Linked DNA regions of Homo sapiens: all the other regions are reported to be linked to region 4. Evidence: microRNA targets listed by miRTarBase, many of them from high-throughput screens and not tested one by one. Region 4 holds a microRNA gene; each other region holds the end of a gene's coding sequence.

Evidence for each region. The annotated mature microRNA hsa-miR-495-3p reads AAACAAACAUGGUGCACUUCUU and lies in region 4 at 2,263-2,284, shown strand. An mRNA with a match to its seed (bases 2 to 7 or 8) in the 3' UTR can be bound and repressed. Matches are read on the target gene's strand: a 7mer-m8 pairs with bases 2 to 8, a 7mer-A1 pairs with bases 2 to 7 and ends in A, and an 8mer does both.
Region 1: miRTarBase lists TMEM68 as a target of hsa-miR-495-3p. Seed matches in the 3' UTR shown: 7mer-A1 at 5,745-5,751.
Region 2: miRTarBase lists SNX24 as a target of hsa-miR-495-3p. Seed matches in the 3' UTR shown: 7mer-m8 at 5,052-5,058 and 7mer-A1 at 5,035-5,041.
Region 3: miRTarBase lists IL15 as a target of hsa-miR-495-3p. Seed matches in the 3' UTR shown: 7mer-A1 at 5,572-5,578.

What each region holds. Positions count from the first base shown.
Region 1 is chr8:55,733,863-55,740,988 of GRCh38, forward strand. It overlaps TMEM68 (transmembrane protein 68), which reads right to left. Exons shown (of 8, transcript NM_001286657.2): 8 at 4,896-6,356. The coding sequence ends at 6,270. Among named protein-coding and RNA genes, the nearest start is that of TMEM68, 36 kb to the right of the region's middle.
Region 2 is chr5:123,006,476-123,013,591 of GRCh38, reverse strand. SNX24 (sorting nexin 24) reads right to left here. Exons shown (of 7, transcript NM_014035.4): 7 at 4,387-5,910. The coding sequence ends at 5,843. LOC124901213 (small nucleolar RNA U13) reads left to right here and starts at 3,952; the gene lies at 3,952-4,050.
Region 3 is chr4:141,731,817-141,738,922 of GRCh38, reverse strand. It overlaps IL15 (interleukin 15), which reads right to left. Exons shown (of 8, transcript NM_000585.5): 8 at 4,936-6,185. The coding sequence ends at 6,075. Among named protein-coding and RNA genes, the nearest start is that of IL15, 99 kb to the right of the region's middle.
Region 4 is chr14:101,031,542-101,038,667 of GRCh38, forward strand. MIR495 (microRNA 495) reads left to right here and starts at 2,214; the gene lies at 2,214-2,295. LOC124903407 (mucin-2-like) reads left to right here. Exons shown (of 5, transcript XM_047432049.1): 5 at 1-2,941. It overlaps MIR543 (microRNA 543), which reads left to right and starts at 446; the gene lies at 446-523.

The DNA.
Region 1 (7,126 bases), not on the chromosome of region 4:
CTTAATAAAATTGAATTTGGCAATTATTTCTTGGATATGACATCAGAAGCATAGGCCCAAAAAAGAGAGAGAGAGAAGAAGAAGGAGAAATAGCTAAATTGGATCTCATTACAATTAAAAACTTTTATTAATCAAGGGACATTATTGAAGTATAAAAATACAACCTACAAAGAGGAGGAAAATATGTGCAAATTATATATCTGATAAAAGATTAATATCCAGAATATATAAAGAACTCCAAAACCTCAACATCAACAACAAAACAATCCAATCCAAAAATGGACTAAGGGCTTGAATAGATATTTCTCCAAAGAAGATATGCAAATGGCCACTAAACACATGAAAACATGCTCAACATCACTAATCATTAGGGAAATGCAAATCAAAACCACAGTGAGATACCACTTCACCACTAGTCATAGGGTGGCTATTGTCAAAAAAAATTGAAAATAACAAGTGTTAGTAAAGGTGCATCGCTGATGGGAATGTAAAATGATGCAGTCTCTGTGGAAGTTTGCTGTGTGAGCACAAAAGTATCTGAGACAGGTCTCAATCAATTTAGAAAGTTAATTTTGCCAAGGTTAAGGATGCACCCATGAACAGCCTCAGGAGGTCCTGATGACATGTGTTCAAGGCGGTTGGGGTACAATTTGCTTTTATACATTTTAGGGAGACAAAATACAATCAATCAATACATGTAAGATTTACATTGATTTGATCTGGAAGGTCAGGACAACTAGAAGTTGGAATCGGGGGGGTCATATGTAGATTATTAATTTTTCTGATGGCAATTTGTTAAAAGAGTTATTATCAAGGGGCCTCAGAAATTTATTTTTGGTTTACAGGTGGTTCCTACAAAAACTTAAATGTGGAATTGCCATATGAGACAGCAGTCCCACTTCTAGGTATATACCCAAAAGAATTAAAAGCAGAGACTCAGACACGTTTGTACACCAATCACCCCAAACATTCATCAACAAAATGTGGTGTGTATCTGTGTGTGTGTGTGTGTGTGTGTGTGTGTGTGTGTGTGTGTGTGTGTGTGTTTCAGCCCCATCCCCATCCCTACCTCAGGAGAAGGGAGAGGAGCTACAGATTGAGTTTAATCACCAATGGCCAATGAGTCAACGAATCATGCCCCAATTATATTTGAGGGAAAATACTTGTAAGTGATAAATAAGTGAGAAATGTTGTAATAAATACAGGTGGCCAGGCACGGTGGCTCACAGTTGTAATCCCAGCACTTTGGGAGGCTAAGGGGGGCATATCACTTGAGCTTAAGGGCTAGAGACCAGCCTGGGTAATATGATGAAACCCCATCTCTATAAAAAATACAAAAATTAGCCTGGGGGTTCAGCACATGCCTGTAGTCTCAGCTACTCAGGAGGCTGAGGTGGGCAGATCACCTGAGCCTGGGGAGGTCGAGGCTGCAATGAGCCGTGGTCACACCACTGCACTCCAGCCTGGGCAAGTGAGATCCTGCCTCAAAAAAAAAAAAAAAGAAAGAAAGAAAGAAAAACTAAGGGTATGGACATAAAAGTGGAAACAACAACAGACACTGGGGACTACTACAGGGGAGAGGGAAAAAGGCTAAGGGCTGATATACTATCTGTTGGGTCCTAGGTACTAGGATGAGATCATTCATACCCTAAACCTCAGAGTCATGCAGTCACACATTATACCCATGTAACAAACCTGCACATGTACCCTCTGAATTTAAAAGTTGAAATTATTTTTAAAAGCCTAGGGGTGGGGGTGGGGGGGCACGATACTGAAATTGGAATGCTCTTTCTTATAGAATGCCGACTACTACCAGCCTGGCCAACATGAAAACCCCATCTCTATTAAACATACAAAAATTAGCCAGGCGTGGTGGCGCACACCTGTAATCCCAGCTACTTGGGAGGCTGACACATGAGAATTGCTTGAACCCAGGAAGCTGCAGTGAGCCGAGATCACACCACTGCCCGCAGCAGAGTGAGACCCTGTCTCAAGAAAAAAGAAAAAAAGAAAAAAAAGAATGCCAACTAGTAAATATAGGATATGAGAAAATCACACTCTTGAATCCCTAGTAATAATTTATTCACACAAGAATCAATTCAAAAGATGCTAAAACAAGTTAACTAGTTAAGGTTTGATGAGGAACAGCTACATGCAGTTATGTGCTACATAGTAACGTTTCAGTCAACAGTGGTCCCATAAGATTATAATACCTTATTTTTACTGTACCTTTTCTAAGTTTAGCTGTGTTTAGATACACAAAATACTATTGTGTTGCAATTGCCTACAGTATTCAGTAGTCACATGCTGTACAAGTTTGTAGGCTAGGAGCAACAGGCTATACCATACAGCCTATTTGTGTAGTAGGCTATACATTTAGCTTTGGGTAAGTATACTTTATGATGTTCACACAATGACAAAATCGCCTAACGATGCATTTCTAGAATATATTCCCATCATTAAGCAATGCATGACTGTAGACAGTCTCAAAGAATCTCAAAATAAGCTTCCTTATTACAAAGGGAAAAAAATAACAACTACAGGGAAGGAACCTGGTGAATGCCATCTCAGCCAAGTGATCAAAGTTATTGCCACTAATGACACAAACCAACATATGTGCCACCTGATGTGACGCCCTGGACAGAGCTGCAGCATCATTCATGTTGTATTTCTAAAATAATGCATAGTCTGAATCAACTTGTAATGAAATGTGAGGCAAAAACAAAATGAGGGCTTATCTGCAAAATAAATGGTCCCCCCTCTCCAAAAAGGTCACTATCATTGAAGACAAAGAAGGGCTGAAGAATCATTCCAGATTAAAGGTGACTAAAGAAATAGGAAAACTAAATGCAATGTGTGATCCTTCCTTGGATGAATCAGGAAGAAAGATTGATATAAATTATATTACTGAGACAACTGGTGAAATTTAAATACAGTCTATAGATAATAGTATTATATCAATCAAGATTTTCCTGATTTTTTTTATCATTGTCTTGTGGTTCTGTAAATGGATGATCTCACAGTCCAGGTAACAGTAAGGGGCATGGTATTTGCAATTTACTATCAGATGATCTAGGAGAAAAAGTATAGATACATATGTGGAGACAGCGAGGGCAACAGGAGTGTGAAAAGAATAAAACAAATGTGACATGTTACCTTGGTGAATCTGGGTGAAGAGTGTATGGGAGTACTCTGCACTATAATTGCAACTTTTCTGTAAGCTTCGAATTGTTTCAGAATGAAAGTTTTTAAAAATGAGCAAGAAAAACTTCCCATAAGTGCGCCATGTTTACACTTCTGGAGAGAGGCTCTTCATACTTGCATCAGGTTCTGACTGTGAACACTCCTCAAAAAAGGGTCAAGACACATGAATAGAAGTGATAAGAAGGGAAAGAAAAATTATGAAAAAAAACTGATACACCTTCTTCCCATTACTTATATTTCTTTTGTTTTAATTTTTTTTTTTTTTTTTTTTTTTGAGACAGGGTGTCATTCTGTTGCTGAGGCTGGAGTGCAGTGGCACAATCATGGCTCACTGCAGCCCTGACCTCTCCAGGCTCAACCTTCCACCTCAGCCTCCCAGGTAGCTGTAACTGCAGGTGTGCACTACCATACCCAGCCGATTTTTGTGCGTTTTCTTGTAGAGACAGGATTTCACCCAGGCTGGTCTTGAATTCCTGGGCTCAAGTGACCCAGTTGCCTCAGCCTCCCAAAGTGTTAGGATGACAGGTGTGAGCCACTGAACCCAGCTTAATTTAAAAACAAAAAAATTTTATTTGATAAGAGGTCTTGTTATGTTGTCCAGGTGGTCTCAAACTCCTGGCCTCAAGCAATCCTCCCAAAGTGCTGGGATTATAGGTGTGTGCCATCATGCCCAGCCATATTTCTATATTTAGTCATATTCTCTGACTCTTATAAATGGGAATTAAACTCAAATAGCAAAGATAAAGATCTGAAGCAATGATGTTAGTCTGAATATCAGGGTTTTAAAAAAAGGTTTTAATTAAAGCAGTAAAACTTAAATATTGTAAAAATAATAGCTTTTGCCACATTAGCAATAAATGCTGTTCTTTCTTTAGTCTTTATTAATAGAACCATGGGCTTGCTCTATCACTCAGGCTGTGCAGTGGCACAATTGCGACTCACTGCAGCCTCGAACTCCTGGGCTCAAGCAATTCTCCCGCCTCAGCCTTCCAAGTAGCTGGGACTACAGGTTCATGACACCACTCCTGGCTAACTTCAGTCTTTAAAACTCAATAGTTGACCCAAAACAAATTTCTCATTCATTTTATATCATTTATTCATTCATTCTGAAATATTTCATCAATTTTGAACCAAACACTGCTCACTGGTGGGGGGAGGAAACTGCAAGTAATCATTAATTGACTCTTCTCATTGACCACAAAATTAAAATATATTTATTACACTGGAAAGTGAAGTTTCTTCATTGTGGCTAGATCAAAGAATATGATTATAGGTGAGAAATGTGTAAAGAGTACAACAAAAAAATCAATTTAAAATGACTATTTAGGGTGGGCGCAGTGGCTCACACCTGTAATCCCAGCACTTCGGGAGGCTGAGGTGGGCGGATCACTTGAGGTCAGCAGTTCAAGACCAGCCTGGCCAACATGGTAAAACCCTGTCTCTACTAAAAACACAAAAATTAGCCAGGTGTAGTGGTACACTCATGTAATCCCAGCTACTCAGGAGGCTCCTTCAGAAGACAGAAGGAGCATTGCTTGAACCTGGGAGGCGGAGGTTGCAGTGAGCCAAGATGGTGCCACTGCACTCCAGCCTGGGAAACAGACACAGCGAGACTCCATCTCAGAAAAAAAAAAAAAAAGATTTTTAAAATGTCACATGTAATTTCTCAAGAAAATTAACTGCAACTCAGGTTTATTTTCACATTGTTTAATTTTATGTACATTTCACATATCATAAATACACACAATACAAAAAGCTATACAAAAACCCTACTAATTCAACATTTAAAAAAGGGAGAGGGAGATACTGCATTTGATTTCTGACACTTTTCTGTTTAAATAATACTTAAATTCAGTTTTCAAGAAGACAACAAATTGAAAATCATTAATTTTTCAGAGGGCTTTGTGTTCACATAAATTCATCATTCAGGCTGGGCATGGTGGCTCACACCTGTAATCCCAGCAAGTTGGGAGGCTGAGGCAGGTGGATCACCTGAGGTCAGGAGTTCAAGACCAGCCTGGCCAACATGGCAAAACCCCATCTCTAAATAAAAACAAAACAAAACATAAATAAATTCATCATTCAAGTATATTTTTATTGAAGCAATAAACCACTTCACTGGCTGTAGAGTCAAACTGGGTAAGCCTCAATATTGAGCAAAAGTAGAGAACTCTTGCTTTCCTCAGCCTAGAATCAGCTTCTAACACACGAAATGCAGAGCACAACAGTGATTTTTAAGCTGGCATTATTAAGACCACAGTATAGGGCTGACAATGCACAGCACACCCTATATTGTTTGCCTATAGACTCTTGTTAAAAATATCATACTAAAAATAATAATTAGAAATTTTATTTTTCCTAATTTTTTATTCAATTTAAAAAATAATACATCTTTTTCATTGTGCTTGGCAACTGGACATGACATAATTTAAACACACAATGGAGAAAATATATACATAACTGCTAAAGGATTTTGACATTGTTTAAATTAATTATTTTATTATTTTGGTTCAACAGTTATCAATCACAGTAAATATAAATAACAAAATAATATCATTCATCATACGATCATGTTTTTAAAAAGTGAATTGTTGAGGCACAAAAACATTACGTGACTTGCCCAAGGTCATGAAGGGAATGAGGGGCAGACAACAGCATGTTTTTTCTAACTTAAACAACTATACTAACCCCTAGCTTATACCATCTTTCAAAATCAGCTCAGGGCGACAGATACAGAAATTTAACGCATTATCCAGGAATGTTTGTTTAACCTAAACTGCTGTTATTAATAAACTTAAGAATCTATATGTTTAGCATAAATTGTTAGGAATTTACAAATAAGACATCTTTTTCTGAATTACTAGGTGTGTAATTTGTTAGTATTTGACACAATTGCAAAAACAAAATTGACTATTTTAAAGAAACGAATTCTGTGAAAGATGCTTATTAACATGATTTTTTTAAAAAATACTAATTATAGGACCTACAAAATTCAGAAGACAGTACCTTAGATACAAACATTTAATATAAATGTACTAAATCATCTTCTAGTTGACCCTTTGTTATCAATGAAAACGTTCTAACAAAGCACTCATAATGTTTCCTGGTATTCTTTGGTGCTTATCAATCAAAGCTTGAACAGCATTCTTCGTCTATTAAGAAAACAAAAGAAAAGCTATTGTTAGTAGATCTTAATATAGACTGATTTATCTCCCATTACCCCTCAGAATTAATGATTTCCTTCTCAGTACACCTGAAGCTTATATATTTCTCTTTTTTATAGAGATGGGGTTTCACTATGTTTCCCAGGCTGTTCTCGAACTCCTGGGGCTCAAGCAATTCTCCCACCTTGGCCTTCCAATGTGCTGGGATTACAGGCATGGGCCACTGTGCCTGGCTGCAGCATATTTCTTATACTTATTTTATTAAGCCTTCAATTATAGTTGTTGTCCACGTGTCTATTTTCTATATCAGACTGTAAGCTCCTTAAGATACATCTTAGAATTTCTCCAGCATTAAGCACAGCAACACCTTGCACATGATAAACACTAAAGGGGACTTAAAGAGGAAAAAAAATAGAAAAATTTCGAGTAGGCAAATGGAAGACTTAGTCCTTTCCAGCTATTAGTAAATTCTAATGTATATTTTCTTTTATCACCATACATACTGAACAATTATATCAGGGTCTCACTGTGTTGCTCAGGCTGGTCTCGAACTCCTGGACTCAAGGGATCCTCCTGCCTTGGCCTCCCAAAGTGCTGGGATTACAGGCATGAGTCATCATGAACTATGTATTTACATACATATATACTTCCTTTTCTAGACTTTAACCTTTAAAGAAAATAAACACTAGGCCAAAGATGTATTATAAAAATACGCCCCTTTGGCTGGGCGTGGTGGCTCACACCTGTAATCCCAGCAC
Region 2 (7,116 bases), not on the chromosome of region 4:
CCTCCTTCCCGTCACACAAAAATAGACCTTCACCCTCATCAGAATCCAGTCTGTCACTATGTATCTGCACAGACAGAAAACATAAACGTTGCAGACATTTTGGTTTTGAGTTACTGCCTGCTACTTCCCTGTGTTTCCGCTGCTGAATTCAAAATCTGTAATTATCATCAAGAATAAAAACCAAAACAAAGCCAAAATGAAAATAATTACTTGCAAGGAGTAGAGAGACTGGAAGAAGACAGCCTTAATCACTGAACTTTATGTCCAATTCATTAAGATGGAAAAACCCTTCCTAGTAAATGGCCAACAATTCCAGAAGGCAAGGATTACATCTGTATTCTTTAAGTAATTAACATAGTGCCTTAATCCAGTGGGGGGACCCAAATGCATTTCACTGAACAACTGAATGAATGAATATACAACTTCCCAATTATGTATAGTGCATCTATTGAGACCACTACCCAAACTTGTCCTTCCTGCTTCTTCAGGGTCTTTTCCTGTGACCTCATATAACAAACACCCCCAAGAGTTGAACAGATGTTCTCTTGGTACTGGATTCTGAAGGAGTTATGAAAGTCAATAAATAATTCAAGATGGCTAAAGGGTGGGTCATAAACCATCTCCATCAATTGGTGGTCCCTAATACAGGTGTGTATCAGAGTGAACTGGGTGGTGTTTCTAACTACCCAAGGACAGGTCTCTGGCCAGATTTATTGATTCAGAATCCCAAGTGATTCTGATGCAAATCTCTGGTTTAGAACTACTGTTTCAGGATTGTAGAGGTTGCCAGGGATGTGAGACTAGTAACTGGTATGTGTGCCAAAAGCTCTCCTGCACCCACGACAGACAGTGCTACCTGATCAGTACAGCCTTATTCTCTGAGCCTGCAGTCACTCAAAAGCCTTTATTGTTTTTATTGTGGTAAAATATACATGACATAAAATTTATTTTAACCATTTTTAGTGTACAATACTATGGCATTAAGTACATTACATTGTTAAGCAATGATCACCACCAGCCAGCTCCAGAATGTTTTCATCTTCCCCAGCTGAAACCTATTAAACACTAATTCTCCATTTCCTCTTTTCCCCCAGCCTCTGTCAACCAAAGTTCCACTTTCTGTCTCTATAAATTTGACTACGCTAGATACTTCATAGAAATGGAATCATACAGTATTTGCTTTTTTGTGACTGGCTTATGTCTCTGAATGTCTTCAAGGTTCATCTGTGTTGCAGCATGTGTCAGAATTTCCTTTTTATCCATTCATCCATTGCCGGACACTTGGGTTGTTTCCACCTTTTGGCTACTATGAATATATGCTATGAACATGAATATATGTATTAGTCCGTTCTCATGCTTCTATAAAGGACTGCCCGAGAGTGGGTAATTTATAAAGGAAAGAAGTTTAATTGACTTACAGTTCCACATGTCTGGGGAGGCCTCAGGAAACTTACAATCTTGGCAGAAGGGGAAGCAAACACATCCTTCTTCACATGATGGCAGGAAGGAGAGGTGCCAAGCAAAAGGGGGAAAAGCCCCTCATAAAACCATCAGATCTCACGAGCACTCACTCACTATCATAAGAACAGCAGCATGGGGGTAACTGCTCCCATGAGTCAATTACCTCCTGGCAGGTCCCTCTGACGACCTGTGGTGATTATGGGAACTAAGATTAATTCAAGATGAGATTTGGGTGGGGACACAGCCAAACCATATCATTATACAAATAGCTGTTTGAGTCCCTGCTTTCTTCTTTTAGGTATATATCCAGAAGTGGAAGTGCTGAATCACATAGCAATTCAATGCTTAATTTTTTGAAGAAGTTATACCATTTCCCACAGAGGCTGCAACCATTTCACACTTCCACCAGCAATGTACAGTTACAAGGGTTGCAATTTCTCCACCTCCTCACCAACACTTGTTATTTTCTGCTTTGATAGTAGCCATCCTCACAGGTGTGCCAGAATTCTTCTTGATGCAGCACTTCAAGCAGCCATTGTCAATCGATCAAAGTTGACAAATGAGATGAAAACCATCTGTTATTTCAAAAGTGTGATCATATTTCTCTAAACTGATTAAGAGAGCTCAACTTCTTTTCAATGGGAACTTATAACTGTAACTGTAGGATTTACCAGGTATTGATGGTCATGGTGATATTGGGGTTGTTCACATGGCTGATTGTAATGGGGGCAGTAACAAGGACACCAGGAGAAAGGACACGAGGGCTGCCAATATGCAGAATGAGTAGGCAGAGATGAGGCCTGAGAGGCACTGCATAAGGTAGCATCGAAGACAGTCCAGGCAAAACACCAAGTCCAGGAACCAGGCAGGACAAATGATGTCCCCACATCCTGACTTAAGTGGTAATGGGATTTTTTTTTTCCTTTTCCTTCCTCTGGTTTCCTTTCTCTGTCCTTTACTTCTCTATTGCCTGTGAATCCATGGTTTGAATGATTAAAGTTTTTGATATTTCCCCAAGTGCAGGGTTCCAAGCATGACTTGGAATACTATTAACACTGTGGTCCATGTGAATGACACTGCTTGGACTTGTGCAATGCACAACCTGTAGAGCAATATGGGCCAGGCATGCCTAGTGAAATCGAAAAGTAAAATGTCTATCAATATGGTAGTGGTTACACAAATTATAGAAGATCCATACAGCTTTTTTTTTTTAAAAAGAGAATAGCACTTTATATACTGATACAGAAAGATTGCCAAGATATTGTTAAATAAAAAAAAATAGAAAGCAATGGGTATTGCGTGCTACCATTTTTGTAAAAGAGGAGAAATTAAATATATGTACACTAAACATACAATATCTGCTTGTATGTAGATGAAATATTACTCAAAGTAGACACATTAAGTACAGACACATTAAGTACTCCCTTCTGTGGAACGGGAATTCGGTATTAGGAGATGAGATGGGAGACAAATTTATTTTTTATCTATAGTTTTATATATTTTTTATTAAATTTTCAACCATGGAAATGATGGAAATATGTTCTGGCTGGGCACGGTGGCTCATGCCTGTAATCCCAGCACTTTGGGAGGCCAAGGTGGTTGGATCACGAGGTCAGGAGTTCAAGACCAGCCTGGCCAAGATGGTGAAACACTGTCTCTACTAAAAATACAAAAATTAGCCAGGCGTGGTGGCATGCGCCTGTAATCCCAGCTGCCCAGGAGACTGAGGCAGAGAATGCTTGAACCCAGGAGGCAGAAGTTGCAGTGAGTTGAGATTGTGCCACTGCACTCCAGCCTGGGCAACAGAGCAAGACTCCGTCTTCAAAAAAAAAAAAAAAGTTCCATCATCTTTCCCATGTGCATTCCTGAGCTGTAGAAGGCTAGCAGCTTCTTCCCAGACTCCCTGCACCTGGGATGGAGAATAAGGTTCTACAAACTGGATGTGCGTTGAAGGGAGCTATGGAGTGGGAGGTGGGAGTGGGCGAATACCATCCTCCTGCCACTTTGGGCTGTGGTTGCTGGCAAGCAAGGCCACGGATGTTGATAGGCAATTGTGATGCAGGCCCAGTCACCAGCTTCCTGGGTGCTGCTATGAGGCCGCACCTCATAGAGAGATCGCCATTATATTTCCTGGGAGCTCCGTATCTCATGGAGATAACAGGTCCTTTTTGATTCTACTTGCTGATCCCTGGATTGCAGCTCTCATGCTGTTTACCTCAAGAGCTTCGCTCACAGCCCCCTAACTCCCTGTATTCCTGCTTACAGCACAGGCTGTAGCTCCCCAGGCAGGTCAGTGCTAGAAGTTGCTGGGGCATTCTGGAATTTGTTCTTGGACACCTACCAGGAGTGCACTCCTCTCACCCTTCCAACAGATTCTGTAAGCATTCAGTTTTCAGCATTATAGCCTTTTCTGCGTAAAAGACCTACACTGGTTTCTAGTTCCTTCAATAACCCTGACAGAATTACACATTAAAAGTTTAAATAGATATGATCCTTGTGTAGTGCATAAGTGTGATGACTGGGTTTTCCCACTCTTGTGAGGTGTGCCTCCTGCAAATCTTATGATGTCTGCATATGACTTGTTTGACATGGGAAATAAAATTTACATAAATATAAAAAGCGAAAGTCATCACTAAGAAAAAACTTAATTCTCAGAAAAGATTTCTTGGGCAGTGTACCACTATAGATACTTGGTTTTTTCAAAAAAATTCTTATTATCTTGGTAAATCATCAAATATTTAATGAACATCTACTGACTTAATAGATGAGATAATTTATTATAATAATTTATCTTATCATATTAGAAATAAACATCTATGTGAATGTGTGAGAGGTTTTGTGTGTGCACATATGTGTGTGTGTGTGTAAACAGACAGATACAAACCATGTTTCCAGTGAAATCTTAGGAGAAGACAAACTCAAATGTTTCCTTGTTCTGTTTTTATTTAACTCCAAATAGCTAATAACATAAAAACATTTTAAAAAAATCTCCAATACCCAACTATTACTTTTGGTTGACAACATTTGATTATTTAGTTCTTGCTTGTTTCCCACATGTAGTACAGAATCTATCATAATATTTTAAAAGTTTGCAGCAGGCTTAAAACCTGAATATTTAGATCCTAATCAAAAACCATGATGTAGTTATTAGTTTTGATTTTAAATACCTTGCTCCCACAGAACTTACTAAAACGAATAACCATAAATAGGCTAGCTATTAATTAGATCTCAATGAAATGCCCACATACAGCACATACATATAGGTAGTATATATGCTTTTATCCTTTACTACTCAAAGGATGATGTACAGTGGAGTTATATCATAAACACATTTAACTTACATTAACTCAACAAATGAGGTCAGTGAAAAGGAAGCCGTAAGGAAAATAACATGAAATCCTGTGGCGATCCCACCTAAAATGAATGCACACCCTTGAGTAAACCCAGGTGGGTGCTGTCCATCCGCTGGGTGGGCGCTTCACTCCTTGTCAGTTCACATCTGCCACTAGCGGGGCAAGCATCTTGCGGGCTGATTCTAGTGTTAAAAGTTATGTGCTTTTTTTTTTTTTTTTTTAACAAAATGGCCCCTAAACAAACACCAACAACTTCACTTGGTCTTCAAACAAAGAAACAGTCTTTTTTTCCAACATAGGAGGAAAAGCTACTTGTTGTGGATGTACAGGTTTCCAACATGGCACCCTTCTAAAGGGCTTTCAAGGATCATCCTAATAGCCCATTTTACCTATGTACTGACCTTGGAAGCTAACCCCTGAGTATGATGCAACTCCACTCTAATGTAAATTAAAATGCCATGATCTTAAAAATGCCATAATATTGTCAGTATAATTTAATTTCCAGTTTAGTTCCATCTTCACATTTAGCAGTGTGTGTCTGTGGCCGTCTCCTGGTGCCAGCATTTCAGAATGTACTATCACTGGCTGAGAAAATCTCACGGTGAGAAGAGTAGTGTGTCATAAGATCTGAACAAAAAAGCTACCAAAGTTGATCAGTCTCAGTATGATTCAGGATATGATTTTCAATTAGCAAATGGTGCGACTGAAGCAGAGAGTGGCTTTGTTTTGCTACACCCAGTGCTCCCAGGAATCTCCTGTGGCCTCCTTTTCATGGGTTTCTACGCTGGCAGCTACACTCTACTTCTTAAACACTTGGCCTTAGCCTGACCACCGCCCCGGTTCAGTTTCTATTTTTAAGAGCACCATTCTAATGGAAATGTCCCTGCCCTGAATTAAGCTGGGACTGTGCACTTTACCACTAGCTAGAGCTGTTATATATCATAGCGTTTAGGTTAAATTGGTAGGTATTGATTTCCTTGACTGTGACTTCGAAACTTGCTTCTGCTTCTTTTAGCCATGTAGGATTTCTACCTGGGCTGTAGATGAGGGTAAAATATCCCATGGAGGACTCCTTCAATAACCACATTTGGAAAATCTGAAAAAAAGAAAAAAAAAAAGAAAAAAAAAAGAAAAACTGCTTTTCTTATGTGAAACAAAATATAATTGCATTCTGTAGAATGGAACAAGGCAATGCTTACGGTAAACACAGGAATCTGCATCGCCAGGCATGTGCCTGGTTGAGGATGTGCTATCAGTCATGCTGCTTCAGCCTAAAGCCACTTGAGCACACCACCAGGCGCGGCAGGAATGTGCGGCCAGATTTGTAGCTTATTGATTTAAGGGATGTTCTAACAGTTAATGCTGCTAGGCCTCAGCTCTTTATCTGAATGTTTTCTCAAAAGGAAGATGGATTACACTGGCAATTCAATTTCTAACAAAATCTCAATATACTTGAAGGAATTCCAAGATTTCTACTGGGAATACCTCACTGCAGTTTTTCCATTGTGGTTTACAGTGCATTTAGTCCAAGTTGTCCTGAGTCTACTTGTTCCATTAGACTAGCTTCGAAAGAGAGCAGTAAGATGGGGGTCAGTCTTCCTAACTTAAAAGGGCAAATTTCCAACAGAAGCCATCCTGCCAAACTTGAAAACACAGCTCCATTATTATAGGAGACAGGAAGGGAGGCCAGGGGTGCAAAGTATGTTACAGCACATTCCAGTCATTACAGTAGGTAAAATGTGAATGGATTACTTGAATGGGAACCAATCTATCTCATGGTTCAGAAGTTTAATTTTTAAACTTTAATCTGTACATAATGATATCCAGGAACTATCCTAAAGCACTTTAAATAAATATCATTATTATGTAAGAAAATAAAAGTAGTCCAATATTTTAAGAAAAAAAATATGCATCTAGCCTCTATTGTCTACTGTGTAAATAAAATCATTTACTAGGGGATTGGGCCTCATCAGAGGAGGCAGAAAGGCTCTCAGAGGCTAGGGGTAGGCAGAGGGAGCTAGCCAGGTGGCAAGTCTGTGGCCAGAGGGAGCCTGGAGGGTTCAGAGACCTAAACGAAAGCCAACATAGTGAGAAAAGTGGGAATGAGGAGGCTGGAGGGCACGGGGTGCCCCATCACACCTGGGAAGAATGGATAGGAGTTTGGGCTTTATCTGAAACTCAATGGGAAGCTACTGAGGGAGTTTAAGCAGAGTGGGACAGAGTTGAACTGTGTTTTGAAAAAGATGATTCTGGCTGCCAGCTGGAGAATGGACTGGAGAAGTTCAAAGCAGACACAAGATCA
Region 3 (7,106 bases), not on the chromosome of region 4:
CATTGGTTGTTCAGGAACATGTTGTTTAATTTCTGTGAATTTGTAAATTTTTCAAATTTCTTGTTATTGATTTCTTGTTTTATACCATTGTGATCAGAAAAGATACTTGATATTATATCAACCTTGTTAAATTTGACAAGACTTGTTTTATGGCCTAACATATTATCTAATCTATTTTGGAGAATGTTCTATCTTCAGTTAAGAAGAATGTGTATTCTGCAACTGTTGGGTGGGATGTTCTTTTTTATGTCTGATAGGTCCAGTTGGTCTAGAGTGTGGTTTAAATCCAATGTTTCCTTTTAGATTTTCTGTCTGGATGCTCCATTCATGCTGAAAGTAAAGTGTTGAAGTCCCTTATTATTGCTGTATTGTAGTCTATCTCTTCCTTCAAAGCTATTAATATTCGCTTTATATATTTAGTTGCTCTGATGTTGGGTGCATATATATTTACAATTGTTATATCCTCTTGCTGAATCCTTTATCATTATATAGTGACTTTCTTGGCACTTTTTACAGTTTTTGTCTTAATGTCTATTTTATCTGATGTAAGTATAATTACTTTTGCTTTCTTTTAGTTTCCATTTGTGAAGAATATTTTTTTAGATCTCTTCACTGTGTGTCCTTATAGGTGAAGTGAATCTCTTTTAGGTAGCATATAATTGGGTTTTGGTTTTGTATCACTTATCCATTCTGTGTCTTTTTATTGTAGAATTTAATCAAATCACATTCAAGGTAATTACTGGTGGATTAGGACTTATTATTTCCATTTTGTTAATTGTCTTTCTTTTTGTAGATCTTTTCTTCCTCTCTTACTTTCTTTGCGATTAAGTGATTTTTTTTGCTAGTAGTATGTTTTGATTCAATTCTATTTTTTATTTATCTATTATAGGTTTTTGTCTTGTGGTTTCCAAAAGGCAGACCAAAAAATCTTGTAAAGGTTATTTTAAGCTAACAACTTACCTTTGATCACCAAAAAAATAAACCTCTACACTTTCACTCCGTCCCCTTCGATTTTGAATTTTTGATATTACAGTTTACATCTTTTTATATTCCATATCCCTTAGTTAATATTGTAGTTATTATTTTTACTACTTTTATCTTTTAACCTTCATACTAAAGATACAAATGATTTGCACACCACATTATAGTATTAGAGTATGCTAAATTTGACTGTGTACTTACTTTTACCAGTAAGTTTTATACTTTCAGATGCTTTGTGTTACTCATTAGTATCCTTTTCTTTCAGCTTGATGAACTCATTTTAGCATTTCTTGTAAGACAGGTCTGGTGGTGGTTAACTCATTTAGCTTTTCTTTGGTTGGGAGTTTTTATACCATCTTCATTTCTGAAGGGCAGCTTTTCTGGGTACAATATTCTTGGTTAATAATATTTTTCTTTCAGTATTTTGAATCATCCCACTTCCTCCTGACCTGTAAGTTTTATGCTGAGAAGTCTGCTGCTAGGTGTACTGAAACTTCCTTACATGTTATTTCTTCCTTTTCTCCTGCTTTCAGGATACTCACTTTGTCTTTGATCTTTAACAGTTTGATTATAATATGTATTGGGATAGTCTTGTTTGGATTGACTCTGATATTAGGTATCAAGGCAAAATTCTATGCTCATTTCTTTCCCTTTCTCACAAGCAGATGCTATCTCTCTGTGCCATGTGTCTGGGATTGGTGAGGGTGGGTGGGTAATGCAAATAATATAAAACCATCCTTTCTACTCTCTTCAATGCATCTTTTCTTATTATTATGCTATAATCAGGCACTGTAAACTCTCACCTGGTTTCCTTAGCTATTTTGAAGGTATTTTCATGCATGGATAGTTGTTCAAATTGATCTTTCTGTGGGCAGAGGCAATCCCTGAAGAGAGCTATTCCATCATCCTCCTCAGCTCTCCTCCCCAGTTATGGATTCATATGTTAATTGTCCTGACTTCAGCCTCTCAAACTATATACACTACAAAAAGGCTTGTTGTTTTGGACAGCGAGCAGATAATTACTTGCTGAAGTTTATGTCCATTAAGTTGAAAAGAATTCATTAAATGACTGCAATGATGAGGCCCATGTAAGATGTTGTTATTAGAAATTATTTTATTAACTTGGGATTTAGTGGTAAGGGAATTTTGACTTCACCTCTTTTCTTGATGGTAAAATAATACATTCTATATATTTTATGCATTTCAGAGTAAGTCTCATTTCTTTTGGTCAGACAGCAAATTCTTACTAGACCCTAACCAGTTGATACTTTTCTTACCAGCTTCCTCTTTAGTTCTTTCCTTTAGCCTTGCTGTACTGTCATTCCTTCCACTCTATGAAAATGCCATGATCCTTCCTGACTGAAGGTTTTGGTAAGCTGTTTTGCTGGTGGACTCTTCCCACTTCACCCCAGATAAGTCCTAATCATAATTCGTAGTTGGCCTCAGATATCACTTTCTCAAAGAAATTCTGATACCTTGAATGAATCAGATCCTCCAATTATATGTTCTTCTGGTGGTGTTCATTAGAAATGATGGTAAGTGAATAAGTCCTCAAGTTATTACTTTGATAATATGGCTCTTCTGCTGAAATGCAATCTCTGTGAAGGCTGAGACTATGGCTTTCTATTCACAGCTAGAACTGTAGCATCTAACATAATGTTCACATATAATAGGTTTTCAAGAATGATGCTTTCAATATGACTAAAGGAGAGAATTTGTTAATGAAAAAAAAAGTGAGGATGATGATGAAGACAAATCACCTGTTGGGTGACTCTGGATTCTCTGATGACCATATTCTGAAAGTGTTGACAACTTTGTATAAATTACTTGTAGAATTTTCAATTCTACTTGTCTAACAATTTCCTTTTCAATTCCTCTAATTGTCATTTTGAAGTACAGCATTGAAGAAGTAAAATATAGAATAAAATCATTAGCCTTTATTAATAATTCATTAATTTTTCTTCTGTGTGTCATCTGATAGATTATACAATTACAATTAGGACACTGTTTAATGAAGCTAAAGTTTACCTTGCATAACCAATTTCTTACTAAGGACACAATTCAGTCATCAGACACATTCAGAAACATTGAACCAAACCTCTATGGAAATGAGATTTTCTCTGTGCAAAATATTTATATATGGCATGCATACATTTAACCATGGCTCACAAGGAATGCAAAGAGCTTAAGCTAAGTCTGACATAACAAAGATGAAGGAACTAAAATGCATTCTCTAGTATTTTTGTGCTAAGTTGGGGGAGAAGGGAAGGAACAGCCACACTACTTGATTTTCATATTGTATATGTTGGTTGACCTTATGAGTTATTGAATTTGATGGTCATAAACAGTAGCACATCAAAACACGTGATCCTCTCTCACAACAACAGTAGCAAAAGAAAAAAGTCATTCTGTGACTTACCCTTCTAAGATTAAAAAAATGAGAGTATATAATACTAGCTTTGTGATTAGGCTTTAAAATTCTCTGGGCTCAACAATTATTTTATTTTATTTTATTTTGAGACAGAGTCTTGCTCTTTCCCCCAGTCTGGAGTGCAGTGGCGCGATCTCAGCTCACTCAAGCTCCACTTCCTGGGTTCATGCCATTCTCCTGCCTCAGCCTCCCGAGTAGCTGGGACTACAGGTGCCTGCCACCACACCAGGCTAATTTTTTGTATTTTTAGTAGAGATGGGGTTTCACCGTGTTAGCCAGGATGGTCTCGATCTCCTGACCTCGTGATCCGCCCGCCTCGGCCTCCCAAAGTGCTGGGATCACAGGCGTGAGCCACCGTGCCCGGCCTGGGCTCAACAATTATATATTGGTTCTGTTTACATTTCCATGTCCTCTGCCTTCTAGCCCTTTTTGTTCATCGCCAGGGAGAATGTAGAGATAATATTCTTTCATATGTCTTTTACTTTCCTGAAATTAAGAAAAGATAAAAACAAAATTCATCAATATAACTTTGAACTGTATATCATATTGTTACGCTTACCTTTACTATTTGAGTTTCTAAGTATACGTTTCTGTGCTTTCTTTATTATATGTTCTACATGGACGATATTTTCAGCAATTAAGGCAGTAAATGAGACATAAACACAGTATCCTCTAGGCAAATGACACTGAGTGGGTTAATTAAGGAAGATAGTTCAAACAGGCAGATTTTGAATCCAAAATCTGAAAGACTGATTTTGTAAAGAGTATAAGCATGAAAAATAAAATTTAGATTGTTTTACACTATTATTTTGTTTCTTCAGTTAACTAATAGTATTTTAAAGTGGTTGCAGATCTATGCCTTGAGTTTTCTAAGATCAACTGAAGCGATCCATATCGAGTAACTAATGTAAGAATTTTAATTTTGAGCCCTGGTAAATTCCAAGTTTTAAGCCCACTTGTATGCCTATGTAACCAAAATGAACCATTTATCACTATAAAATATTATTTGCAAAGTGACTGGCATTATGATTTTCCTTCCCCCATCTCAGGAAGACTAACATTCCCCTAAAGACTGGACTGGAAATTTAGAGAAGAAAATGGTGCACTTTTCCTACTCTCCCTAATAGAAAAGCTACATAAAACAAAACAAAAATACAGGTATATTAAAAAATTCTATCCCAATTGAAATAAAAAAAATAAATCAACCGCCACAATCCACAACCCATAAACTTTAAAGAGTGGCTGCCAAATACTATTTCTCTGGACTGAGAGTAGGTAAGAAGCTGACAGCCAATACATGATTATTGGAAGTCAAATAGGATACAGATTTCTCCTAAACTTTCTGAAAGATATTTATAAGCACCGTTTGACTAGAGCAATAAGAACACATGTACATGGATAGGGCACTGGGGTGATAGAAGAATGTTTCAACAGAGAACGAGTTTGTACTATGGAATAGAAAGAAATCAAATTCTTAAGAGATCATTTCCCACCCCACAGTCACTCAGTGAGTATTACCAGAATTAAGGTGAAATAAATTTATAATAAAACAAAAATATTTCATCTTTCTTACAGTTCCATTAGAAGAGAGCTTGCTAATTTTAGACAGTGTAGTGCAAAAAATATAAACAATTATTTTCTGTCAGATAACAATGGCTCCAACAAATCAACAGGGTTTTTCTTTATTATTATATAAACATGGCAAAAAGAATGTGAAAATAAAATACCTGTATTTGGGAAAGCATGAAATATGAACACTGTCACTATTAGTTTTCTATACCAGGGGCATCCAATCTTTTGATTTCCCTGGGCCACATTGGAATAAGAAGAATTGTCTTGGGCCACACTTTAAATACACTACCGCTAATGATAGCTGATGAGCTAAAAACGAGATGTATGAAAGTTTATGAATTTGTGTTGGGCCACATTCAAAGTTGTCCTGGGCCGCATGTGGCCTGCAATCCGTGATTGGACAAGCTTGCACACCATTCTACCTATCAGTAGAAGTTTATTATTGCCACCACCACCAAGATTTACTGATGGACATTATATGCCAGTTATTGCAATTTCTTTATTTCATAACAGTTGCTTTATACATCAATAACTAAATTACAGTATAAAGAAGAGGATTCACATATAGTTCTTCTTTTTCTTACTGATAACAAATTCTTCCTCTGTTTGCTATGCTTAGTAAGGAAGTCAATGAGAGCCAGTAGTCAGTGGTTCCACACTGGCAGGAGCCTACCAGCATAGCTGTTGACCTGCAGCATTGGTACCCAGCCCCACCAATACATAATTTGACTATCACCCTTAAACAAATGCTATTTTGCAATAAGAGGTAAAATATCAGTGCAACTTAAAAAACAACACTTGTACATATTTTTATTCAACATTTTACATTATTCCACAAATATGTACAATTTCAATAATAAATTAAAAAAATGAGTAAAGTAAGTCTGAGAGAAGTTCATAGTCACTATATTACTCAATGACATTTTTCTGCCTTCATTTCTAAGAGTTCATCTGATCCAAGGTCTGATCATCTTCTTGACAGAAAAACTTGTTTTGACAGCACATTTGAAATGCCGAGTGTTTTGTTATGTCTAAGCAGCAGAGTGATGTTTGTTAATAACAGAAACACTTTAAAAAGAATCAATTGCAATCAAGAAGTGTTGATGAACATTTGGACAATATGTACAAAACTCTGCAAAAATTCTTTAATATTTTTTTCCTCCAGTTCCTCACATTCTTTGCATCCAGATTCTGTTACATTCTGCAAAATATAGAGAGAGATTAAATTGGCAATTTATAATTAAATTAAATATACATTCATGGGAATGGGAATATCATATCGTTTGAACCATATGGTGAGGTCTTGAGATATGAAAGCTTTAGCAAATAAATAGCATATTAGGAAGAACTACGAGGAAAGAGAACAGGGAGATTTGATATATGTTTATTTTTCCAATAATGGGTTAAGGACATTGAGAAAAATAAGCTGTGTCTATCAGACCACGGAGTTCCTGCTTTGAGCCCTTCAATGGTTTCCTATCATCTGCTTCTAGCATAAAGACCATGCCTCCCTGCATAGCACACAGGCTCTTCATGAGCTGTTCCTTACCTATTTATTTCACATATCCCCCTTGCCTCAATGTTATGCCCTAGAAACACTGAGTGAGCATCTGGCTTTCCTTGCCATGCACAGCATACTATTAGATGCCTCTCTGCCTTTGCTTTTCTCTCTGTTACATTCATTCCTATTTTAGCTGCTGCTACTCGCACTTAAGATTATTCAGGTACTCTTTTAGGGAGGCTTCTCTGAACCCCTGGGCTCCTAGGGCTGGACTCAATGTCCCATCTTTACATCTCAGAACCCCTTATTTAGACCTCTCTCACAATATGTCATGTATTCTATTCATATTATGAAGTTTTACTCTTTTTATACTGTAATACTATTCTCTAAGCTCTCTGCCAGAAGGTCAGAGCCAGTATGTTTGTTTCCCTAGCATTTAGCACAGGGCCTGACACACTGTAATCACCCATTGGTTGAACTGAGCCATTTAGGTGAATACCACAAATTGTTGTACTTCAAACACAGTCTCATGGATAACTAGAATGTTCCAAATGTAGCAATTAAGAATAAACTTTTTAGAGATCATCTGAACCATGAAGGCTGTGCCAGCAAAAATAAAAA
Region 4 (7,126 bases):
TTCTATGACGACTCCCTTGGCTCAGAGGCTCCATCAGGGCAGACACTTTGCTGTTTGTCCCTAAAGGGTGGGTGGTAGATCTCATCCATCTTATCTGGGGAGTTATTGTGACTCTCCTGGTCCCTCCTCATGTATCCTCAGGAGGACTTTTAGGATGCAAAATCACTGTTTCTGTGCCATTGTCATATTCTGTGCTACTGGAGGAGACTTTTTGTTATTGAGAAATTGAACACATCGTGCTCACAAGCAGCTCCAGGACACAATGCCACCTGTGCAGAGGGGGCAGACCTGTTAGATGTCTCCCAGGTCTTGAGGGGGTTGTATGCACGGCCATATCTTTGTCACCGGTTGCCCGGTGCGCATCAGGACCCATGTGCTCTCAGGAAGCCCGCAGGAGTGATACCAGCCGCGGAGAAGCAGTGTTGTCAACGGTGCTGACGTGCGGTACTTAATGAGAAGTTGCCCGTGTTTTTTTCGCTTTATTTGTGACGAAACATTCGCGGTGCACTTCTTTTTCAGTATCCTATTCTGCCTTGAAGACGTCTTGGTTTGGGTGCAACTTCAGGGAAGGCACATGGGCCCCTGTAGTGGACGCTGATCAGGACCTCCCTACCCCATGTCTTTTCTCCTTCCTAAATTTCTCCTTGTTTTTTTTTTTTTTTTTTTTTTTTATGAAAGCTCCCGTCTTCCCGCCGTGTGCTTTGATTGCATTGACCCTGCCCCACTTCCTCCACCAGCCCAGGCTTAAGCGAATCTCTTGATCTCTTCTCCTTTGCCACTGCAATTGCTTCCGGAATAGGCCCATGACCCCACTGGGCCAGTGATAGGCAAGGAGATGCTTGCTGCAGCTTCTGGGAAAGAAACTGTTTCTCCCTTTCCTGTGATAGCTGCCAGAGTAGACACTGTCTATTCCATTCAGCTGGGAATAGACAGTGAACTTTGACGTGAGCTTCGAAGGTCCCACAGCCGTTTAAGGACTGAGAGGAGAGGGCTTGGTGCCACGCAGACACAGCAGAGGGAGTCTGTACCATGAAAGGCATCTTGGAGACCTAGAGAAGAGCCTGGATGATATCATTTGAGTCCCTAGATCAAACCCTGCCTGAAGCTTGCTCTGTCTCTGTACTTTTTAGTTATATACGTCTATAAATCCCTTACTTGTTTAAGCCAGTTGGAGTTAGATCTTATCTTACTTGCAATACAAACAGATGATACCACAGTGTGTTTTCCAGTGTGACTGGGAAAGCCTGCATTTTTTTCAATGATGTGTTTCTCACGGTTTGCCTATCTATCTTCAGTGTCCTATTTAAGGCAGGGTTTTGGTGGAAGGTGACTTTTCTTATGGACTTATGCTTTCAAAGCTTTGTCTTAGTGATTTAATTTATGGTTGACAAATGATGCACAATTACCGTGTTTTGTGTCCAGCAATGGGTCACTGGGTCCTCTCTGGAAGGCCTGATGGATGGTGGGCCCCAGAACTTCTGCCCCGATTCACTCTCCCTCGAATCCACCTCTCTCTGGGAGGCTGCCCTGCAAGTGATGTGGACTTGGGGAAGCCGTTGTCCTTTCCTGGCCCCTGCTGTCCTTTGGCTCTCTGTGGGTTGGCTGTATTTGTCACAACTCACACTTAACTGTCAGTGTTTTAGAACCAAGCCATGCCTCCAGGGAACCCGGAGCACTTTAGAGAGGAGGTGCAGTGGTCAGCACCATGCAAGGTGCACAGAGAGATGGGTCCACCGAGAGCCGGGGCTGCCTTGGTGGTTTGTTTCTCCTGATTCGATATCTTTGTCTTCCCATCTCCTTCCTGGAACCATGGGCTCATGGAGGAGATTCTATTTTTGGGTCCAGGACCATCCCATTTTCTCTGAAGTGATGCTCTCCATGAGCATTTGCAGGGTTGATAGTAAACATTCCGAAAGCCGTCTGCCCTGATTATTGAATTCTGCCCATGAAGACTTCCTGGGATCCCGAAGTAGAGGGAGTCTGGGATCGGTTTGCTTTATCCGTGATGACTGTCCGCCTCTGCTCAGTGTCAGCCCAGCCCTTCGAAGCATGTCCCCCACCTCCCCTGGGGTGAGCCAACTTACCTGATGCTTTTAGGCTTAATTGAGCATAAGTTTGATTGGCAGCGTCTGCCCGGCCCTGCCCTCACGCCCTGACCCTCAGTGTCCCTTCACGCCCAGGTGTGCCTCTGGCAGGGAGGACGTGCTCATCTCTGGTACCTGAAAAGAAGTTGCCCATGTTATTTTCGCTTTATATGTGACGAAACAAACATGGTGCACTTCTTTTTCGGTATCAAATATCTCCTTGAAGTGCCTCCATCCCCGACGGGACCCTGAGCATGGGACCTGGTGTCACTACCTCTCTTGGTATGTACATGGAGGATTTGTCCTGGCAGCCCCTCGGTGACTTTGTGTGTTGGTGGGCTCAGGGACCATGCTCAGTCCTCAGTCCTCAGTCCACGCCCACCTCTCGGACAGGCACAGTTGGCGAGGCCTCAACCACATGCCAGTTCCCCGCTGCCAGGGAGGCTGGGGAGATGCACTTCCAGGCTCCATTGAGAAGCGTTCCCCAACATTTGAGAAGAGTTCAGATCATAGCAGCCAAGAAAAAAATAAAAAAGGAAGCAGCTGCCACAACAACAAAAACAAATAAGCAATGAAGACCCCTGCCCCCATCCGCTCTCTCCAGAGGCTTGAGGGGATGGCTGAAGGGGACATGAGGACATGCCATCTGGGGGACTGCCACCCGCACCTCCACAGAAGAATTGATTGGGGGTAGCAATTGTGGCAGAAGGCGTCCCTGTGGTTCTGGGAGATGGGATTTCTCAGAGTGGTGATTTACTGGAGCCTAATCCTCCCTGCCCCGCTCTTTCTTTACTTTTCTTTTCTTTTTTTCTTTCTTTTTTTTTTGACACAGAGTCTCGCACTGTCTCCTGGGCTGGAGTGCAATGGCACGATCTTGGCTCACTGTAACCTCTGCCTCCCAGGTTCAAGCGATTCTCTTGCCTCAGCCTTCCAAGTAGCTGGGATTACAGGCGCCCGCCACCAGGCCCAGCTAATTTTTTGTATTTTTAGCAGAGACGGGGTTTCACCATGTTGGCCAGGCTGGTCTTGAACTCCTGACCTCATGATCCACACCCACCTTGGCCTCCCAAAGTGCTGGGATTACAGGCATGAGCCAGTGCGCCCAGCCCCCGCCCCACTCTTTCTAGGTGCCAGTTCTGCCTCTGAGAGATGTGCTCCTTGATCACCAGCATCAGAGAGATGGTGTCTGACATTGGTGTCTGCCCCAAATCGGGAGCAGTGAACAATGGCTGACGGCAGAACACATGCCTTCCCGAAGACACTGCTGTCCGGGTGTCCAGTCCCCACATTCAGTCCATCCTTGGGCCCTGGAAGAGAAGAGGTTTCCCCAGTGTGTTCATTTTATTTGTGACGAATCATTTTTGGCCACTCTTTTTTCAGTATCAAATCCCACTTGAAGGGAAAGGCTGTTTGAGCTGGGAGCTTTGGTGGCATCAGCAGCTCTCTGGGGTGAGTGATGGGTGTTGCCCAGAGAGCATACGCGTCATCCCCACGGCCACCTGGTCCTCTGAACCTCAGCATCCCTGTCCCCCGAACCTCAGCATCCCTGTCCCCCAGGAGGGCTTCCTGGAGCTCTGCCAGCCAGAACTAGAGGCTGTGGGACTGCTCTCCGGGCTACACTTTGGTACTGGAGGAGAGGTTATCTGTGTTTTTTCCCTTTATTTATGATGAAAAATATGGTGCACTTCTATTTGAGAATCATGTGCCATCGGGAAAGGTCAGAACCCACTTCTGGAAGGAGATGCTAACGGCAGTCCATTGGTGACACTGGGACCATGCTGGCCTCAGCAGGTGCCCTTCAGACAGTGGGCAGCTGCTCCACCCATCCTTTGGGCTCTGGCCTCCCTCCAGAGAACTTCCCGGTGGCAGAAACACTTTGGAGAAGCAGCACCGGTCTTCATGTCAGGACATTCCATCAAGAAAGGCTGTCCAAGCTGTGGCCTGCATAGTCAACCTGTTTTACTCATTTGAGTGCCACCTTTCTAAATGATGGGGTGCCCACTTCAGGGAAGGTGCAGCTGTGGGAGCAGAAGGCAGGCCCCACAGTCTGTATATGACACGTGCCACTTGGCCGGTGGACCCTCAGCCTGAGGACCTCTGGAGGGGACACTGGCTCTGAGTCCCCTGTGGAAGGGGAAGCACAGTTGTTGGATGACGCGACATGGACAGTTCTCTTTCGACCAGATCCTTGTCTCCCATCGAGGGGGGATTCTGCTCTCACTGCTGCTTATGTCAGGAGAGGGTCACTGTTGCCTCCATCACCTCAGGTACGTCAGAGGAGGGCCTCAAGGAAGCCTTGCATCTCTGATGGTACGTATCCTTGTGTGTTAACCCTTGCCGTCTGTTTCCTTTGCAGGAGGACACCCTGGGCTCTGGAAGAGAGACAGCACCCCAGAAGCCGGCCAGGAATGGTTGGAGGGAGGCTATTGGTGATGTGTTCACTCTGTGTGTGGCAGATACCCCACAGTGGACCTCCTAAAGCACTGAGTGCCTCCTTGAAGGACTTGCTGTACGTGGTGTGAAGTTCAGGAACACAGTGTGGGTGTCTGTCAGCCCCTCGCAGAGGGTATGTGCGCAGATGGTGGAACAGCTGGCAAGTGTTTTCCTTTATTTGTTTTTTCTTTTGAGAATTGAGACTTTATTGAATGAATCACCATATAATCCTGTTTCCTAAGGTAAATCTATACATAAAAAGTTAGGTCCTACACCACCAATTTCTTGTTAAGAAATGGACCAAGAAATATGAACAAAACCATGTGTAACACAGTTTTCAGAGTTTTAGAAGAATGGCAAAATATACACTAGCTTGTCTCTTGATTGCCAAAGCTTAAACTCTAAAGAATAGGGAGGACATAGGTATACACTGGAAAAAAAAATGGCAAATACGTGAGGAGGATGGGAATGTTTGTGACTACATGGGAGGCAAACTGATTTTTTTTTTTTTGAGACGGAGTCTCACACTGTTGCCCAGGCTGGAGTGCAGTGGCGCAATCTCGACTCACTGCAAGCTCCGCCTCCCGGGTTCATCCCATTCTCCTGCCTCAGCCTCCTGAGTAGGTGGGACTACAGGTGCCCGCCACCACACCCGGCTAATTTTTTGTATTTTTAGTAGAGATGGGGTTTCACTGTGTTAGCCAGGATGGTCTTGCTCTCCTGACCTTGTGATCTGCCCGCCTCAGCCTCCGAAAGTGCTGGGATTGCAGGCACCCACCACCGTGCCTGGCTAATTTTTGTATTTTTAGTAGAGATGGGGTTTTGCCATGTTGGCCAGGCTGGTTTCGAACTCCTGACCTCAGGTGATCCGTCCACCTCGGCTTCCCAAAGTGCTGGGATTACAGGCGTGAGCCACTGCATCTGGCCAGCAACTTTTTGCATCTAAAAGGTGGATGTTCCTTCTATGCTTACAGGATTTATGGTTAATCACAGAGGAAGTACCATCAGGGAAGCCCATTCCAGGAGGAAGTGGGGAGGGGGCAGGTGAAAAAAGCGGAAGAAACCAATTAGGGGCATATGCAATTAAGGACAAGTCCTGAGCAGGGCTGCTGCAGCCACATCCCACAGCAGGGCCTGGGGAGTCAGCTGCACCTAGAGCTGAGGGCCCGGGGCAGACACGGATGTGTCAGTTCACTAGCCTGGGTACCCTAGCCAGGCCCCTCAGGGAGGGATGCCAGCCCCTTGGAAGAGACAGTGTGTGGGCTGACCTTTCTCCCAACACAGGGGAAGAAGAGTTCCTTGGCTGGTTACTACACCTACCCCAGCTCTTCCAGGCTGCCGCTGTTTCAGTTACCAAAAGAAGACCCCTAAGCCCAGCCAGCAGCTATTCCTCAATCACATGTCCCCCTCCTTCAGGACCATCCTGGCAAGACCCACTCCTTGGGACACGAATGATGTCTGGCCACACAGAATACATGTTTATGACTCAGACCGTCCAATTCCCTAACCAGCTATGTCCCACTGGTTCTCAACAGGGCCTCGTGGAGGCAGCCCCGACCTGGGGGAAGTGGCCTTGCTCTGGCTGGTATGTGCAGAATGCTTGTCCATGTAGACGTGCTTTATTTATGCCAAATCGTGCTTGGGGGCTTCGGGGGATCAGACTTGCTTCCTCAACAAGCTGTGACTGCAGGGGAGGGACTGGCTAATAGCAGACAATGGGTGTTATCTGGTCCACTCACTGATCCATTCGCCAGTAGGAGGAATGTCTAACTCTGCATGTGTGAGAAGTAGTGGTTTTCAAGTACAAGACTTTTTTGAACCAGTTCCAGCTTTAGAGAAGTGAGATTGGTGTAGGTTGTCCGTGTGTGGAATGTGAATGGAGGGTGGGACATGGAGCATACGCTTTGCTTGTGGAAAATGTCTCCTGGTCCTCAGAACTGAAGCCGTTTTAGCGGCACTTCCTGGAGTGATGGCACCCTTGCGAGATAGGGTTTGAGTCTGGGATTATTGGTCCTTCATTTTTTGCTATGGGAGGCATGTGTTGTCGCTATTTTAGTAAGCCTCTGCATCCACTCCACCCCAAAAATGATTTTTCTGGAAGCTGTGATCATTGTTTTTGGAGGGTGGTATTAGTGGTGGTGGTGGTGGTGGTGGTGGTGGTGGTGATGGTGGTGGTGGTGATGGTGGTGATGGTGGTATTGGTGGTGGTGGTGGTGGTGGTGGTACTGATGGTGGTGGTGGTGGTGGTGGTGGTGGTGGTGGTGGTGGTGGTGGTACTGATGGTGGTGGTGGTGGTGGTGTTGGTGGTGGTGGTGTTGGTGGTGTTGGTGGTGGTGGTTGTGATGGTGGTGGTACTGGTGGTGTTGGTGGTGGTGGTGTTGGTGGTGGTGGTGTTGGTGGTGGTGGTTGTGATGGTGGTGGTGGTGGTGGTATTGGTGGTATTGGTGGTGGTGGTGGTGGTGGTGGTACTGATGGTGGTGGTGGTGTTGGTGGTGGTGGTGTTGGTGGTGGTGGTGGTGGTGGTGGTGGTACTGGTGGTGGTGGTGGTGGTGGTGTTGGTGGTGGTGGTGTTGGTGGTGTTGGTGGTGGTGGTGGTGGTGGTGGTGGAG